Linked DNA regions of Homo sapiens. The protein of the gene in region 2 interacts with the protein of the main gene of each other region in a biochemical or structural test. Each region holds a gene or a part of one and is shown on either strand. Other genes may lie near its edges.

Region 1 (4,634 bases), on a different chromosome or scaffold from region 2:
AAGTAAAACTGGCAAAGAAAAAGACAAAAGAACATTTGAGCCAGACATGGTGGCTCACACCTGTAATCCCAGCACTGCGGGAGGCTGAGGTAGCAGGTTTGCTTGAATCCAGGAGTTTGAGACAAGCCTTGGCAACACAGTGAGACCTTGTCTCTACAAGAAAACTGACCAGGTATGGTGGCACAGGCCTGGACTCCCAGCTACTCAGGAGGCTGAGGTGGGAGAATCACTTGAGCGCGGAAAGTTGAGGCTGCAATGGGCCATGTTTGCACCTCTGTACTCCAGCCTAGGTGACAGAGCAAGACCATTCACAGACCTAAACTCTTTTGAGACAGAGTCCCAAAAAAAAAAAAAAAAAAAACTGAGAGTCCTTAATTTCTTTTAGAGCTGGAGAAAACAATCGTGCTCATCCCTAAGTAACCTCTAGATACCTCTGCCAGCAACAGCAGTGCTTAGACAGACACATTGCTTTCAGAGTTCCCTCCTAAGGGTTCTTCTAAATGATGTCATATAATCCTGGTCAAATTTGGAACTGTAGGCAGCAGGCAGGTTTATCAAACCTCACTAAGGGCACTAAGGCGATGGTTACTACTGCTACCATGTGCCCCCAGCATAGGGACAAGAGACAGTAGGGCATTTGAACAGGCTCCTCACAAGAGGAACAAAAAGCAGAACTGATGCCATTCTGACATCAAACCTCATTGTATGCTACACTAGCATTTTACGTAGGGACATCTTATGCTCCTTAACAACTGTATAACCCATTAGATGCCACCCCCTCATACTAGACACTGGGGCACTGCAGGAGACAGCTCTCCAGGAGCCTGCAATCTAAAGGCGGGGGCAGATATGTCAACAAAATAATAATAGCACTTGAACAATAATGATAATCACAGCACTATATCATAGAAAAAAGGCCAATTTCTGTATTTCACTTGGAAATGTTTTATTTGCTGAATAAGTAATACATTCTTGTGGTTCAAAACTTTAAAACTAGAAAAAGGTATTCAGAGAAGTCCAGGAACAGCCGCCCGCTTCCTCTTCCTAGAGGTAACTAGCACTGAAGAAAGCACCAACTTCCGGCCATGGGAGCCACAAGATACCAAAGAGAAAAACTAGCCTCATACCCGAATAATGACAAGATAAACTTGACCCTGACTCAGGATGATCAGAGACTTACTTCATTCCAACTATTCTCCACAAGGTCACCAATGAACGCTTGCCTGCTTGCCAAATCTAAAAGGATGCTTTCTAGTCCCCATCTTCCTCAATACCCCTACAGCATTTCCCCCTCTATTTGAAACTTTGTCCTCTTTGAATTCTTTATGACATTACTTTCATGCTTTTCTTCCAAATTATCTAGCCTTTTGTTCTATCTTCTTTGTCTCATTTTTTTTTAATGTCTCTCTTTTTTTTTTTTTTTTTTTTTTCCAGAAATAGGTATCACTATGTTGCCCAGGTCTCAAATTCCTAGCTTCAAGCAATCCTCCCACCATAGCCTCCCAAAGTGTTGGGATTACAGGCATGAGCCACTGTACTCAGCTCTCCAGTTATAATTTCTAAGCAGATCTCCTTATACCTAAACACCCAAAGGATACTGATATATCCTGTATACTACCAATCTACCAACTTTCTTTTTTCGGGGGGTGGTGGGCATTCTGGCAAAAACCGGAGAGCCTGCTAGACAAATTCTAAGAGCTGTAACACTTATATACTACCGATTTTCTACAGGAATAATTTTCTACAGGAATAAATTAAAACACATAATAAATTAAAACACTTATATACTACCAATTTTCTACAGGAATAATTTAAAAGTCCCATCTGCCAAGGGACTCTTAAGCTTTAGCTTTTAGAGCAGAAAGGCATATTTTAGATTAGTTTGTTATAGGCAAGTAATAACTTATAAGAAGAAATGAGACCCAAAATTATTTTGCCTGGTTATGGATTTCTCTGCCATATTTTGAAGGCCATCTAACACACTGATAAAAACTTTATTAGGTATGATTACAAAAACAACAGTTGGCATTCACCTTACTTTCACCAGTATGTTGCTCCATTCACCCTGTGGTGCAACAGCTTCAATTAATTTTTCTTTCCTTTTTTTTTTTTTTGAGACTGAGTCTTGCTCTGTCGCCCAGGCTGGAGTGCAGTGGCACCATCTCAGCTCACTGCAAAATCCACGTCCCAGGTTCAAGCAGTTCTCATGCCTCAGCCTCCTGAGTAGCTGGGATTACAGGCGCATGCCACCATGCTCGGCTAATTTTTGTATTTTTAGTAGAGATGGTGTTTCACCATTTTGGCCAGGCTGGTCTCGAACCCCTGACTTCAAGTGATCCGCCTGCCTCGGCCTCCCAAAGTGCTGGGATTACAGGCTTGAGCCATCATGCCAGGCTCAATTTCACTGCTGTCGGTATCCTTCAATATATAGCTTTCTATACAAATGATATTTAAAATATGTTGATTATGCTATAAAGGACATTTTGGGAACAAATGGTGAAATCTGAATATGGGATTATATATTACAGAGAGGGTAATAAAGCAAATGTTGGAAAATGCTCATATAATATAAGCAAACAAATACAATATGCTGATAGAGAAAAGATAGTATTAAATTAACACTTAAAAATGTTGAGGCCAGGCGCTGTGGCTCACCCCTGTAATCCCAGCACTCTGGAAGGCTGAGGCGGGCAGATCGCCTGAGGTCAAGAGTTCAAGACCAGTCTGGCCAACATGGCGAAACCCTGTCTCTACTAAAAATACAAAAAGTAGCCAGGCGTGGTGGCATGCGCCTGTAATCCCAGCTCCTTGGGAGGGTGAGGCAGGAGAACTGCTTGAACCCAAGAGGCAGAGGTTGCAGTGAGCCAAGATCGCGCCCCTGCACTCCAGCCTGGGCAACAGAGCGAGACTCTCATTTAAAAAAGAAAAAATTACAAAAATGAGCCAGCATGGTGATGTGCACCTATAATCCCAGCTACTCTGGAGGCTGAGGCAAGAGAATCACTTGAACTCAGGAGGCGGAAATTGCAGTGAGCCGAGATAGCACCATTGCACTCCAGCCAGGGCAACAGAGCTGTCTTGAAAAAAAAAAAAAAACAAAAAACTTTTACCTGCTGTGGTTAAATTAATACCTTAATGTAACTTTTCTGGAAAAACTAGGTATATATAAGAATTAAACTTCTTGGGCAAGTTTACTAGAATACCAAAGTTTACTTAACCAATTTCCAGCTCTCCATATTAACAGTGTTCTCCACTCCTGTGAAGCCTACAGTATAGCTAATGCCCACCACAGTTCTCTAGTGTGCCCAGGCACTTATGTTCACTCCAACAGGGAGGGGTGCTTACCAAGAGTTAGTTGTGTTTGTCACCAAACCTGATTGTGCCAGCCACACTTGTTGCAATTTTGTAATTTTGTTAAACTGTACATTAGATGAAATGACTAAGTAGATTAAATGATTCAAAAAGAGAACTGTTTCTCTGAAGACTAAGTTGAATGCTTTGGAAAGACAATAAACACAGTTTTGCTTTTTCTGCTTTAAAACAAACTGCTTTTGGACAGGCGCCATGGCTCACGCCTGTAATCCCAGCATTTTCGGAGGCCAAGTTGAGTGGATTACATGAGGTCAGGAGTTCGAGACCAGCCTGGCCAACATGGTAAAACCCTATCTCTGCAAAAAATACAGAAATTAGCCAGGCACGGTGGCAGGCACCTGTAATCCCAGCTACTTGGGAGGCTGAGGCAGGAGAATCTGGGAGGCGAAGGCTGCAGTGAGCCGAGATTGCTCCATTGCACTCCAACCTGGGTGACACAGTGAGACTCTGTCTCAAAAAAAAAAAAAAAAATCTGCTTTTGGACTAGATATTACAATTGGAGATAACTATGACTTACGGGAAATATTAAATTAAGAATTCTTTATAAGACACTTGCCAAACAATCTAAGTTCTTACTCCACTTTCAAAAACCCAAAAATGTAAACTGTAAATTATGCATTATTGAGATGGTTTCTAAAAGAAAGGCTAAAAAAGAAAAAGAATAAGAAAACCTGAAAGCACTGCAACTAGCATACTCAAAAGAAAAAGAAAAGAATGTGGAACAAAAGGTATCATACCTTTTACAGAAGCAGGAAGAGAAAGAGAACAGAGAAATACAATCTGTTTATTTGGTTCTGTGATGAAGCAAGGTTTTAGTTCTTTGCAAAAGTAGATATCCATAGGTTAACTGTAATTTAAGTAGCAAGAGCAATAAAGTTTGAAAGATAAAGGAGAATATGAAGCTCATATTGTAAAGTTGGTCCTTCTCAACCAAGTCGATTAAAAAATTAAGAGAAGGTGGGACTAGTTATAAGAGAAATAATTCCAAACAGCCATATAGCTGCAATTGACGGGGATGAGACTATGGTTATGCATTTTAGGGGAAGATGAGTACAGGAAAAACAATGGGAGAAAGCAGTACCATGAAATTACACCATTGGTCTTATACTCTTTATGAAGCAAAGTAACAGTAACTTTCAAAAAATAATCTTTACGCTTTCATGTAAAAACAGAATAGCCAAGAGGGATACTCGTAAATAAATATTCCAAACACTTGTAAATGTCTTTAATATTTCAAACATGAATTATACATAAATTCACGA
Region 2 (4,634 bases):
CTCGGGGGCCAACCTCAGCAAGACCTCAGGAAGGACGGACACAGGTCTACACACCAGGCCACAGACAATGGGGCTCGGGGGGCCAACCTCTCCAGTCCCCAAACACAGTCCCCAACAGACAACTTCTCCTGTCCCCACATGCGGCTCCCAACAAACAATTTCTCCTGCCCTCACACGCGGTTCCCAACGACAACTTCTGCTCCACAACATGACACCCACGGTGGGAGAAGCTGGGGGCACTTCACTACATCATCCTGCACACTGCAGCATGGCCTGCTCCAGGCAGAAGGCAGGCCTGGAGAAGAGCCTGGGACCACCGCGGACTGACCAACAGCGGACACCAGGTACTTTCTCAAATGGGAGAGGGGCCTCATGGTGGACAACATGTATCTCTTTGTTTTTCGAAAGCTGTACATCTTTGGTGCAAATGTTCATTTGAGATATGTAAAAATCAAAAGTTTTCACTCAAAACTTTCATGGTCCAACCATGGAAATATTAAGCACCCCATTTTCGAACATAACTTGACAGCACTTATTCTACTTCATTATTCCACGCAAGAATTGGAAAGAACAGCTGTGTACGTGTTTGCAGCTGACACCACAATGCCATAGCAACCGCAGGCCCACCTGGAAGCAGAAGCGTCCAGGAAGCCCAGGTGCACAGCACTCGGCACAGAAGGGCCTGCAGCCAAAAGCCCCCTTTATTTAACTGCTTTATTGCTATCAAAGGCCTGATTAAGTAAACGCCCCCATCACGCTGCCTGAGCCGGGCACCACAGGTGAACACCCTAAACAGCAACTGTTTCCTGGATGATCGAGGGCTTGGAGGTTCCTACTGAGCACCATGAAGAAGAAAAGCAAAGCACTTCGGGAACCCTGCAAATTACCCCAAATCTCAGGCAAGCTTCTCCAGAGCCCTGTTACACCTCTGCTTCAAGATCCTCAAACACAGCTGCTAATTATGCTTTGATCAACTCACTTACAACCAACAATTTATAAAAGCTTTCTTCAAATTTATCCCTTAAGTGGAAGAAAACTCACATTATACAGTAGAAAAGGCTTTGGAGGTAGAACAGGAACTGTCTCCATTCCACTCTGATTTCGGGATGCGGACACGCCCACCAGTCTGTTCTGCTGAGCCCGGTCTGTGCTGCTCTGACCAGACGCCGCCTCCCGGCCTCCCTGTGCTGATGTCTAAGGGGCAACTTCCACAGCACACCGGGGAGCCCGGGGGCAGTCCTGGAAGCCAGGGTGGCTCTGCTCTCTGCCCTGGGAGAAGGCCAACTTCCCAGGCGCCCGGGGCCTGCCTCAGGTCCATTTGCCACAGAAGCAAGCGGGACACCCTCTCCTACAAAGCTTCTCACAGGCCCTAAGAACCAGGGCAACCGTAACGAACTTCAAACGTCATCCTCTGTTCAAACTCATAGACCTCTGCTGTGAATGCAGTGCTCGGGCACAGTAAGCAGTGAGGAGAGAGGCTCCTAAGAGCGTCACAGGACCCCGACTCCTGGCTGCCACTAAGCCATGAGGGTCACCAGCTCTGAGACACCAAAGGCAGGTGAGGTCCATCCCAACCTGTCACCAAGATGACTCTGTTCATCCCGAAGGCGATGGTGACGACCCCAGCCGCGGGGCAGGGGGCAGGGAGGAAGGGAAGACCCAGAGCGGCGCCCTTGCCCTATGCTAGGCAGAGCTGTCCAGGGCTGTCTTTACACAGCTCCCCAAAAGTTCTTTTTCTTTGTTCTTTTCAAATGTCACTCCTACCTGAGTATGTCAAAAGAAACACCAGATTAAGGCCTCTAGCCTAAAGTGAGCCCTCCACCCAGGTCCAGGCCTCCAAAGGCCACTGCAACCCTCCCCTATGTTGGCAACCACCGCCCCAGGGTGACCCACCTCAGACCTCGGTAACTTCCCCATTGACAGAACCAGTCAGCTGCCACACCAAACACCTCAGTCACTGAGAAAACATCCAGTCTGGATTAATGTGTGAAAATCAGTGAAAAATGAGGGGAACTGGGAGAGTTTGGAATAGTGAGCGCCACCTGACAGCTATGTTATCTGGCCCAACCTGACAGAATTCACATTCTTCACCAAAAGGGCAACCCCACTTTACAGCTGGGTAAGCCAAGGCTCCGAGGAACAACATATTCCTCCCAGGTCAAACGGCAACAGGGCCCTCAAGTCACAAAATCTAAACTTTTAGGAATGTCCCTTGTGCCAGAGCACTGGCTGCCACCACTGGCCACCAGAACTCACAGCTCCTGCAACCTCAGGGGTGGCCGTCTGCATGCCGCCACCCAGCATGGGCCTGGACTCGCCAAATCCAACCCGTCCCAACAGCGCGATTAAGGGCTAGTGGACATTTTCCCCCTTTCCCCACAGATGGGAACCAATGCTCCAGACAGCACCCACAGACACACATTCACCTGGGAGTACTCATCCTAAAACATGCAGCAAGCACACGCCCCCTAGGCCAAGGGATCAAGGCCCATGGTGAGAAAGTGCTTTTCTGTCCTGGAATGGGAATCTACACTTGGGCCAAATCTTAGAGCAAAAGGAGAGTAAATTCTGCATGAAAGCACAATAGACCAAGATACACTGAAGAAAATGTGAATTTGCCAGGCCAAAAGATAACCTTTAGAAATGAGCTTCTTTACCTTACACCGATCTGAAAAGATCTCTCAACAATTTACCAACATGCTAATGTGGGTGTCAAATCACCTTTTTCTTCTTTCAGCTGTAATCACAACCTGACTATGACGTTATGACTATCCTAAGCTGTACATAACTAGTGCTTTTCCGTGATCTTGGGACAACTGTGTCATCTGCAACAATCTCACTAAAGACTGAGTTTTCTCATTTTTCCTCAGTGAATAAAATCTAAACTCTGGCACCTCAAACCAGCAAATTACAATTACATTAACATAACTGTCTTTACAACACTGTCCTGACAAAGAATATCATGACAGCTACCTAAACCAAATTCAACATACCCGGTGTGCACTATGGGGCTGAAACACTCGGGCCTAAGGCTTAGCCTTAAAGACTTCAGGGTGAAACCTCTGTCCCCTCCCTTCTCCCACCCAAGACCTCCACGGAGGGAAGGCTGGGAAGGGCAGGCCCTTTCACACCCCATCCAATTGCCACCCGTCTGCTACTCCACTTGACACCCACATGCAGCTTTGAGAACCCTGCCCACCCCTAATACTCCCGGCTCCTCCTCAGTTTGCAAGACTGAGTTGTAATGAGAATGAGTTATTAACCAAGCAAGAGTTATTTTTATAAGTTACTTCCATCTTTGTTCTAAACATTTTTATTACGAAATATTTCAATGAAAACGGAACCAACTAGAACAATTTAATATTCTCTGATCAATCGATTACAGGAAGTAACCAGAGTATTTGCAATTTGCCATTCTGATTTACAGAATTAAGTTGTACTGTTCAAAAGAAGGTACTCTGGTTTGGGATACTGGTAGTTTTATTGATACTTTTTTTTTTTGCTTTGGTTATTATTGAAACAAATAACATAATCAAAATTCCTCATCAGTAGATCAACTGCAGGAGGCCATGAAGAGATGGGGTAAATCTCTCACTTTTTTAGATAGTAGCATTCGGCTCCTTGAAAGCACCGCTCTCAGCACTGCCACCCAAACGTCTGTGTGAGCTGTTCCTCTGTCCTCACACACAGGAATCACGCACAGTCAACACTCCTACAGTTGTTTTTCAAGTTGTCTCTTCATCAAACACACCCGACCCTAAAACTGATCTTAAAACAGAAGATGGAAGTGAGTCCCAGGATCACTCATGATAAACACAGCAGAGATGCCCTCTTCCAACCACGTATTCCTTCACCTCCTCCCAGAAGAAAGAGACAGATGAGGCTTTACCTCTGCAGTGGCTCAGAGCAAGAGGACCTGGCCAGCCCCACAAGACAGAGTCCAATACCTACCCAAAGGGGTGCAACAGGCACCTGGCCTGCGCTGAGACACGTGGGACCTCTGGAAAAACATTTTTATAAATAAAGCATTGTGACAGTTTACATAATAGATCACAGCCATCAAACATCTTTTTACAACGTTACTAAAGATCAGCCACGTTTCCTACTAAAAGGTCAACATACACATAACAGCAAAACCAAGCCTCTGGCAAAACACCCCTACAAACGCTTCAGTACCCCAAAAGCTTGTCGTAAAGGGCGTCTCAGCAACCCCGGGAAGTAGCTTCACAGCTCTCTTCCTCCCTGGAGCACTGCAGCCTAGCAGCCGCCCAGACAGGCTTTCCCCACCCCTGCCCTGTCCAGAGTCTGACCACCAGCCCCGAACCTCACATACTTGGACAAGAAATCCTTTCACTTCTGAAGATTCTGCAACCCTGTCAAAGTGACCAATAGCTCCATTCAGAGAGGGGACGCAGGAGGGACCCACGCTCTCCTTGCAGTTCCTACTACTGCTGCCACCGCGCTGCTACAACTGCACGGCACGCGTCACCACAGGCCGGGGAGGAGCTCCCCTGCCCAGCACCCACCACGGCGGCTGGGGAGGGACGGGGAGCCCCAGACAAAAGCAGCAATGCTGGCCAGGCAATCTTTCCTGTCAAACTTGAGGGGCCCTGAGGAGTCGCAGAGACAGCAGA
Region 3 (4,634 bases), on a different chromosome or scaffold from region 2:
AAAAAGATGCCCCCCTTCAGTAATAAATGAAAACAAAATGTCTTAGTAACTAACAGAAGCACATAAAATATCAACAAATGTATACAAATATGAACACAATTAACAAACTAGACTTCTGATATATAAAAATAAGATACTCCCAAACTACAGAACATGTATTCTTCATAGGATTACATGGGATATTTTACCAACATAGACCATGTATTAGATCATAAAATAAGTCACCACAAATTTCAAAAAAACTGAAATCCATCCAGAGAATATTTTCTGACTACAATGGAATTAAGCTAAAAGTCAATCATAAAAAGGCAACTAGAAAAATCCCCAAACACCAAAAAGTACAGTAACACTGTATTTCTAAATAATTCATGAATAAAAATAAAAACAAATTAGCCAGTATTTTCAATTAAATAATAAAAATAAGATAGCAAAAGATGAGGGTTGTAATGCTGTACTTAAAGGGAAACTGATATATATGTTTAAGTATATATTTTTTAAAAGTTGCAAAAAATGATAAATTATACCCAAAGAAAGTAGAAGGAAGAAAATAATAATGAGCAGACATAATTAAAATTGAAAACAAATGTATAAAATAGAAAAAAATCAATAAACCAAAAGTTGGATCCTAATAAAGACTAATAAAATCTAATTAAAAAAAGTGCCTTCTAGAAACATTGATCAAGGGAGAAGTGACAAATTTGTAGAGGTACACACATACCCATGCACTCATATACATATGGTACACACATACTCATGTACTTCCATGGGTACTTATACACATACATACATTCATCATGTTCATGGGCTCAAAGATTCAGTATTAAAAAGATGTTAATTCTCCCCAAATGATCTACAGTTTCAAGGTAATTGCACTCAAAATCTCAACAGATTTTCAGACAACTGCTTTCTAAAATGTATATGGAATTATAGAGGGCAAAGAAGAACCAAGGCAATCTTGAAGGAGAACAAAAAAGGCAAAACAAACAAAATGACACACTCTGACATAGAAATATATAATAAAGATAGAATAACTAAGACAGTGTAATGCTAGACAAAATAGACAACTGCACTAATGGAGCTATTAATAGAACAACACAATCCAGACAGAGAACCACAGACAAAATCCCCTGATCAAAATACAGCGCAGCCGGGAAACAATGACCTTCTCGGTAAATCATCTTTTCAATGTTACTGGTCAATTGGGTATACGTATAATGGCTGGGGGGAATCAATCCTTACCTCAAGCTACAGACAAAAATCAATTCTCCAGAGTGGGAGGAAACATTTGCAATACAAATATTTGATAAAGGACTCATCTGCAGCATGTGTAAGAAACTCTTAAAATCACTGCTGGGTTTAGAGAATATATTCTAAATAAAGCATTGTTATATTTTTCTTCTTTTTTACCAATGACACTAGCTTTTCATGTGTCTTTCATATGCCCAAGATAAAACCCTAGAGTTTTATTATTCTTTCTATAGCTCTGCACATGTAGCTCTCAATCAAGTTCGTCAATTCTATCTTCTCAATGTCTCTCACCTGTGCTCTTCTTTCTAGATGAATTAAACTTTTCAATTTTTATTTACAGACTAAAGTCTGCTTGAATTATTTTTATGCTTTCACATAAGAGGACTTATGAAAACAAAACTGTTAAAACAGGAAACATTATTTGTGCTTACGTTAGTGGTCTCTGAGTTACAATGATATAATCTGGTCTTCCATTTTTATAAAGCAGGCGTGCATTAGACTGGACCCAAGTCCATCGGTTGTTTTTTGTAAGAAGCCGGAAAACTATCATGCCACTTTCTCCAGTCTTAATCACTAAAATAAAATTAAAAAATTAAATTATCAAACCCCCAAATCAATATAGTAAAGATTATTCCTAAAACAAAGCTCTTGTGACATAGTTCTGGATGTATTTCCTTTATCCCCAAAGACAATAAATTTTAAACAAAAAATAATAAAAGGCATGGAAATAGTTTTTCAGAGTTGTTTTAAATTTATTATTTTAAATGTTAAAGGGAAGATTATGTACCAAACAATTCTAGTAACACAGGAAAGTATAGAGAGAACATAAGTTGGGGAAAAAATTATTTTCATTTTAAATAGGGAATATTTTCCTACAGCCTAATACTTTATAATTTTAAACTAGAATTATTAACACTATTATTGTTACAATATTAACATAGATTTATGAATTGATAACGATGTAATTAAAAAATTCCCAAGCAAAACTTCATGGGCCAAAATGGTCATTTTTTAATAACTAAACAACAATATTTCTACATGGCAGGTGTAGACAAGTTAATGAACAAAGAGTGTAACCCTGGTTAATCATAATGATATGTTACTAAGTAGAAGTTTATCCATATACTTTACTTAAACACTTTACATTACGTAAGAATTTGAAACATGTACAACAGTATATGCCGTTTTCTTCTGACATGTTCATAAGGAACTACAACTTACTTCGGATATGGGACTCGGCACAATAAAGCATATCAGCTGCATGAATAAACTGATAACCTGAGCCTCTCGTGCACAGCTCTGCTTCAGTATATCCTAAAACAATTCTTCCTCTGTTTAAAATAAAAAAAGGTAAAATAAGAATGGATTAAGATTTAACATAAATGAAATAACCAAGATAAATTCATTGGTTTTACGCTAGTTTCTGCAATATGTTTTAGTTCACATTTAGAATTTCACATAAGTAGATGTGAAATTAAACACATCCATGTAAACTGATCTTCTTTGCTTATGATTGCAAATTTCAGTTTCAGCCTATTTTCTTTTCCTGAATAAATCCATGGAAATTAGTATGCTAAAAATGAATCTAATAGAGCAGATGTATGGGTAACAGAACATCTTTAATAAAAATCTGGAATGTTTTTATAATCTATTTTTAGGGAAGAAGGTTTTTCTAATTACCTCTCTGCATTCCCACATTAGAAAGGAGAAAAGCACTGATATGTTTGATATGATATAAATGTTTAATATCAGACTCCTGCTCACAATTTTCTGAAAGTTACTAAAACTTCTGGGGCTAGAAATCAAATAACATTTGTGCCATTTAAAAATGTAAAACAAACCAACATAAATGTCATCAGAAGAATAAACCTTACTAATATATAAGAACATCATCATTTGAGACAAGTATTGCAAAAATTAAAAAGATGATTTGTGAGCCTGATTAAATTATTTTACTGTAAAAGGCTACACTGGAAGAATGTACGATAATAGCCAATCTAATAATAAACAATATTACATACACTGTATGTTTTACATGCTAAGAGAGACTTACTGAAACATAATGTACATCCAATAAAATAAAAGTGAAAAAGTCTCACTTACTTGGCATCACAACCAATAGGTGTGAAGTCTAGTTTGTGTTTGGTTCTAAAGATAAAATTTTTGGTCCGGATTTCAAGTATGGATGGTGGCTGAAGTGGAGTAGCTATCGCAAACAAAGCCAACTGAGGTGGAAGTATTGATCCATCTTTCCCTTTCTTTTTCTGTCCATGAAGATACTTTAACTTCCCTTGGAAATTCATTGCCTTAAAAAAGCAACAACAACAAAAAAGTTCATTAAAATTAACAATATAAAATAGTGCCTTTTTAAAAGGCTCCATTATGGCTGCCTCTAGGGTTCTTGATAATTCCATAAATATTCCTGAAGCTGAGAACTGTTAGTTTCCTTCACTCCTCTCTCCATGGGACGCCCATTAAATCTATCTCAAAGAGTAATATGAAAAATATTCTAAAGGGATAAGTGAACCACTCCTTGTTCCTAATGGTCATAACATGAAAACCTATATCATTTTCCAAGCTTGCCATTACCCTATCATTTTCACCTCACACAGCTCCTTGCACACCAGGCAATCAATATATCCTGAATGGTGATAAAGTCCTAAAGTAAACATTCATTTTCAAGCATACATGAACTATATCACAGCTCATAGCATACTGCATAGTTCATAATCTTTTCTATAGAGGCAAAATATAATTTTATTAAGACACTAAAATGAATCATCATGAAAACATATAAAGAATGCAGAGCCCTACTGAGTAAAGATATGGAAGAAATTTAGAAGACAGGGAAAACAAAGGCACTTAAACATGAACATGATATATTTAATTGCTTAAAACAATATCAACCAGTCCAAGGGATGGTTCTGACATCAAAATAATAGCAGCACAAGGAGGAAAAGGCCCTCCTGCACACAGATATTCCACCTCAGACATACACTCACATGTCATTTAACAAAAGGGGCATGTTCTGTGAAATGTGTCCTTAGGCAATTTCATTATCCTGTGAACATCAGAGGGTAGGTTCACAAACCTAGATGGTATAGCTTACTACGCATCTAAGCTATACAGTATAGCCTTTTGTTCCTAGGCTACAAACCTGTACAGCATGCTATCGTACTGAATACTTAAAGCAATTGTAACATGATGGTAAGTATTTGTGTATCTAAACATAGAAAATATACAGTAAAAATACAGTATAAAAGACAAAAAATGGTATACCTGTATAAGAGCACTTATTGTAAACAAGGTAGGCAGGACTGAAAGTTGCTTTGGTTTAGTCAGTGAGTGAGTGGTGAGTGAATGTGAAGGCCTGAGACATTACCGTA
Region 4 (4,549 bases), on a different chromosome or scaffold from region 2:
AGCAATTCAGAGCCAGAGGCCTGTGGATAGATAGGTCAGCTTTAATTGCCTTTCCGTATGAAACCCTTCCAGTTGTCCCAGAGCCACTTTCTGCCATCTGTGCAAGCCAAGAATGTCCTTCTCTCCATCTTTCCTACCTCCATCTTAAACATACATACAAAATAACTGCCAGCTTCCTTTCTTATTTTGTCTCCAAAATTGACTGTCACAGGGGAATGAGAAAATGTTCTAAGCTACAAGATTCCCGTTTCCTTAAAGTGATATCCTGTCCTAGTGAACCAGTCAGGTAACAGGTTCTGCTGCATTTGTTTTAAATTTCCCCTCCTGCTTTTCAGAGCTGGTGCTGAACAGGCCACACCCCTAAAGACAAAGGAGAGAAAACACGGTTTTCTCATCCTCTACCATCAGGTACCCAACAGGAATAGGCCCTGAAGTGATTCAGACTAGCAAATGTTATGGCAGATGGTCAGGACGCAGGTTACCACATCCAGGGACTTCACTTTTGCCTTTAAAAATTCACAGCCGTAACTTGTGCTCAGGACTTCCCCTTTAGCTGGCTGCTCCCTGGGATTTTCTCCTGCTTTAGAGTTTTGTTTCATTTTTTTATTGTCTTGATTTCCCAGTAGCAGCCTTGCCCTAAAGCTTGACTGAGTTTATGGCTCCTAAGGAGCTTTCCTAAGACTCTTGACTATTTTTCTTCCCCCTTCAGTCAAGTGTTTTTACAGTTAAGAATTAATTTGTAACTGCATACATGCCCTGCCAGTCTGTCCCTGTGTTGGGTGGCTAATTTATGTAGCGGGTCTTTTTTATTTCTTAGCCCCCATGACTAATTATCTAGTCCTAACTTCATTTTTATCAGTGGGAAGATGTGTACGGGACCTCAGTGAGGAGCACTGCCAGAACCACAGTAACAAAATGGCACTGAAATAAGGAAGCAGCAGGTCAGAACCCCCTAGATAGTTCTTGAGTTGGTTCTCAGTCTCACTAAGGAGGCAGAATAATTGCTGCCCTGAAACTTCTCTGATAGTCAAAGGTAACTTCACTTACCTTGTTATTGCTACCAGCCATGTGGTCACTCTCCCCAAATCTTTGTCTTCCAGATCCATCTGGACCAGAACCAAACATCATGGAAGGTGTCACTTGGCCCTTCCTAAAGTCCATGGCGTTTCTAGAGGCCTAAGGGAGGACACTTTCAGAAAGGAGCTGAGTGTATGGTGGGTGTCCTGAATTCGTTCATGTGAATACAGGACTCAGGCTTCCCACCCCACTCCAATGTGAGTGCTCGATACACAAGCACTCTAGCTAGCTGCCACGTACCCAAGGCCACAGAGGGAGGGGACAGAACCAGGTCTTCTGGTCTGCTCACTTTCTGCCCCATTCCCCTAACAGAAAGTTTGCTTAGAGTTGAAAAGTCTAAGAAAGCCTCCCACAATACTAGAGAGGCCAACAAAAAAAAAGTCATGCCCCCTTTACTTACTCTTTTGCTGCTGGTTATGCATCTCAAATCTGACTTCCTTAGCCTTCACCTCCCTCCTTGGCCCTAAGCATTAGACCATGTACTCTAAGTAGTGGTTAAAGAGGGACTGAGCAAACTGAACCTCCTCTCGCTCACTTCTCTATCCCTGTTCTGTTGGTTTTGGCTCCTTTCTTGATTCACTGCCCTCTAGCACCACCCATCCTGGTAGATGGAGTGCTTAACCCCAACCGTGCCCTATGTACAGCCTGAACCACCAAACAGACACCAAAAAAATTCTTCCTGTGGTTTCTGGGGCTCCCCTGCTCCACACTGAGAGGCTCCTTAAAGGTGCTAGCCCCTGATACAGCTATCCCCGCCAGTTTTCTCCTTTTTTCATAACTTCCTTCCCATCCCCAAATCATTAATTTTTCATTAATATTGTACATTATATACACAGGAAGGAAATACATTATTTTTTTTAAATTTCATAACCAGCCTGTTTAGATTCCAGTCTTCCTAGCTATATCACATATGCCTTGTTGATATGCTCTTTCTGCTTTCTTTAGACTTAATGTTTGACGGGGGTGGGGGTGTCTGGAAGAACAGGAAAGGTGGGGATCCTAAGGCAGATTAAAGGACTCCCTCCACCCCACTACAGCCTCCCATAACTCTAGTCATCCCTCTCATAGTACAGGACTGATTTCTCTGTGTCTGTTTGTACACACAAATGTGCATACAGACATAAATTCCCCCACCCCATACCAAGGTGGTTACCTAGCAGGAATGAGCGTAGGTGGCTGCTGGCCACCATTACCACCGTCTGCATCAGCTGTGTTGTCTCTCTTTGGGGTAAAGTCCTACCCCAGAATGAGAAAAGGCTGGGGAGAGTAGGGCAGGTTAAAGGAGCTTATGTCCTCTGTAGATGTAGGTTTGTATCATAGCTACTAGGGTTTATTTTTTTAATGGGGGGCTAATAGCACAGAGTTATCTCACCAGCAGTAGCTACTGGTGAGTGATGTTTTAGCTGTAAGAAGTGGCTATGAGCAATAGTTTCACTGACTTTACCTTAGGGCAGTGCCACAGTAATCTGGGAACTTGTTAGAAATACACATTCTCAGGCCCCATCCCAGACTTATTGAATCACAGACTCTGGGGGCAGGGTTTAAAAGCACTCCAAGTGATTCTAATGCACACTAAAGGTTGAGAACCATTTCTTAGGGATAAGCTGGGAAATTTTTACAGGTGTGGAGGATATTTCAAATACATCTTTTGCCTTTGCACTAACATGCTTTCATTTCTTTCAGTCTCTTCCTCCATTCCCTTTAAAGTCTTCCCCATCATATCACTGATCTCAAAAGCTAGATTTGTCTTCATTTTAGTCGTATCCCTAAAACCATGCATTGGTCTGGACAGGAGTTGTCCCATATTCCCTTGCAGACTGGTCACTCCATGTTCTCTGTTACAGTAAGGACCAGCCAAGCTTCAGCTGTCCCATTCCTCCCCCTACAACACACACACCTTTCAGGCAGGGAGGAGATGAGCTTCCAGCCCCAAGAGTGGAGGCTGCCACATCCTAACATAGTATCTATTGAAAAGGAAGCAGTGTGTATCTATGATTATATCTCTGTTCATCTATATATTTTTGACATGTAGCAACACCTCTCCATCTTATCAAGGAACTCAACTCGGTCTGGGTCTCCCCAGTGCCCAGTGGTGGCCTTTGACAGGTAGGAGGATGCAGTGCTGCAGGCTATTTTGTTTTTTGTTACAAAACTGTCTTTTCCCTTTTCCCCTCCACCTGATTCAGCATGATCCCTGTGAGCTGGTTCTCACAATCTCCTGGGACTGGGCTGAGGCAGGGGCTTCGCTCTATTCTCCCTAACCATACTGTCTTCCTTTCCCCCTTGCCACTTAGCAGTTATCCCCCCAGCTATGCCTTCTCCCTCCCTCCCTTGCCCTGGCATATATTGTGCCTTATTTATGCTGCAAATATAACATTAAACTATCAAGTGAACCACTGTTATGTCTGATGCTTCACTCCTCTATCCACAGCCCCCATTGTCCCCTTTTCTGGGAGGTCACTGGCCTTTCATGTCTGTCATCTTCATCACTCCCCCATTTCTTAGGACAGAAGGAACAGGGATTTTTGTCTCTAGTTTTTATACATGGGAGATACAGCCTAGAGAAAGTGGATGATTTCTATAAATTACAAAGTATGACAGAAGGCCCAGGGCAGAGCTCCTGTGGACTGCCTTGGAGACAAGGGCCCTTGGCATCCTGGCAGCAAGTACTCACAGGAAACTTAGTATGTGCTTTATGTGGATGGCGGGTGGGAGAGTTGCTGATGGCAAATGGCCTTTTACTTTTCAGTGTTTTGTTGCCAACCCCCACCCAACCATTAAAAAGTGGCTGTTGTGACCAGGGAGCACACACACAGACAAAGACGGAAAGTATAGCTTTCTATGGTAAGGAGGAGGCTGGTCTGGAAATGAGGGGTAGAGTTTACTTAGAAGCAGGTAAGAAAACCGGGCATGGTGGCTCATGCCTGTAATCCCAGCACTTTGGGAGGCTGAGGCGGGTTGATCACCTGAGGTCAGGAGTTTGAGACCAGCCTGGCCAACATGGAGAAACCCCGTCTCTACTAAAAATACAAAAATTAGCCAGGTGTTGGTGGCGGGCGCCTGTAATCCCAGCTACTCAGGAGGCTGAGGCAGGAGAATCACTTGAACCTGGGAGGCAGAGGTTGCAGTAAGCTAAGATCGTGCCGTTGCACTCCAGCCTGGGCAACAAGAGTGAAACTCCATCTCAAAAAAAGCAGGTAAGAGTTCACAAGAAAAACAGGTAATGCTCAGAGACTGTGGGAATCAGGAAGAGGTGTAGGGAAATCACAGATAATTTATTGCATCTGTATATTCCTTTATAAATAACATCACAAATGAGAACAATGAGCCAGGCTGAAGAATTTGACAAAAGAGATAGCAGGTGTCTCTGGAGTTTCCCAGTAGGAGAGAAATGACTTAAGAAGCTATCTGTGGCTGGTGTTTGGTAGACACTTGACACAAATAGCCTGTGCCTCCTGAGGAGAGCAGGAAA

What was found.
Region 1: the proteins of TAF4 (region 2) and CREM form a complex in vitro, tested with the Homo sapiens proteins (one study listed by BioGRID).
Region 3: the proteins of TAF4 (region 2) and AHR form a complex in vitro, tested with the Homo sapiens proteins (one study listed by BioGRID).
Region 4: the proteins of TAF4 (region 2) and ATF7 form a complex in vitro, tested with the Homo sapiens proteins (one study listed by BioGRID).

The regions. Positions count from the first base shown.
Region 1 is NC_000010.11:35,132,518-35,137,151, reverse strand, and holds part of CREM (cAMP-responsive element modulator), read right to left. Parts: intron 1-4,634.
Region 2 is NC_000020.11:62,058,912-62,063,545, forward strand, and holds part of TAF4 (transcription initiation factor TFIID subunit 4), read right to left. Parts: intron 1-4,634. UniProt on the Homo sapiens protein: The TFIID basal transcription factor complex plays a major role in the initiation of RNA polymerase II (Pol II)-dependent transcription.
Region 3 is NC_000007.14:17,332,832-17,337,465, reverse strand, and holds part of AHR (aryl hydrocarbon receptor), read right to left. Parts: intron 3,555-4,634; coding exon 3,352-3,554; intron 2,580-3,351; coding exon 2,470-2,579; intron 1,822-2,469; coding exon 1,680-1,821; intron 1-1,679. UniProt on the Homo sapiens protein: Ligand-activated transcription factor that enables cells to adapt to changing conditions by sensing compounds from the environment, diet, microbiome and cellular metabolism, and which plays important roles in development, immunity and cancer.
Region 4 is NC_000012.12:53,510,980-53,515,528, reverse strand, and holds the end of ATF7 (cyclic AMP-dependent transcription factor ATF-7), read left to right. Parts: 3' UTR 1-3,475; downstream 3,476-4,549. UniProt on the Homo sapiens protein: Stress-responsive chromatin regulator that plays a role in various biological processes including innate immunological memory, adipocyte differentiation or telomerase regulation.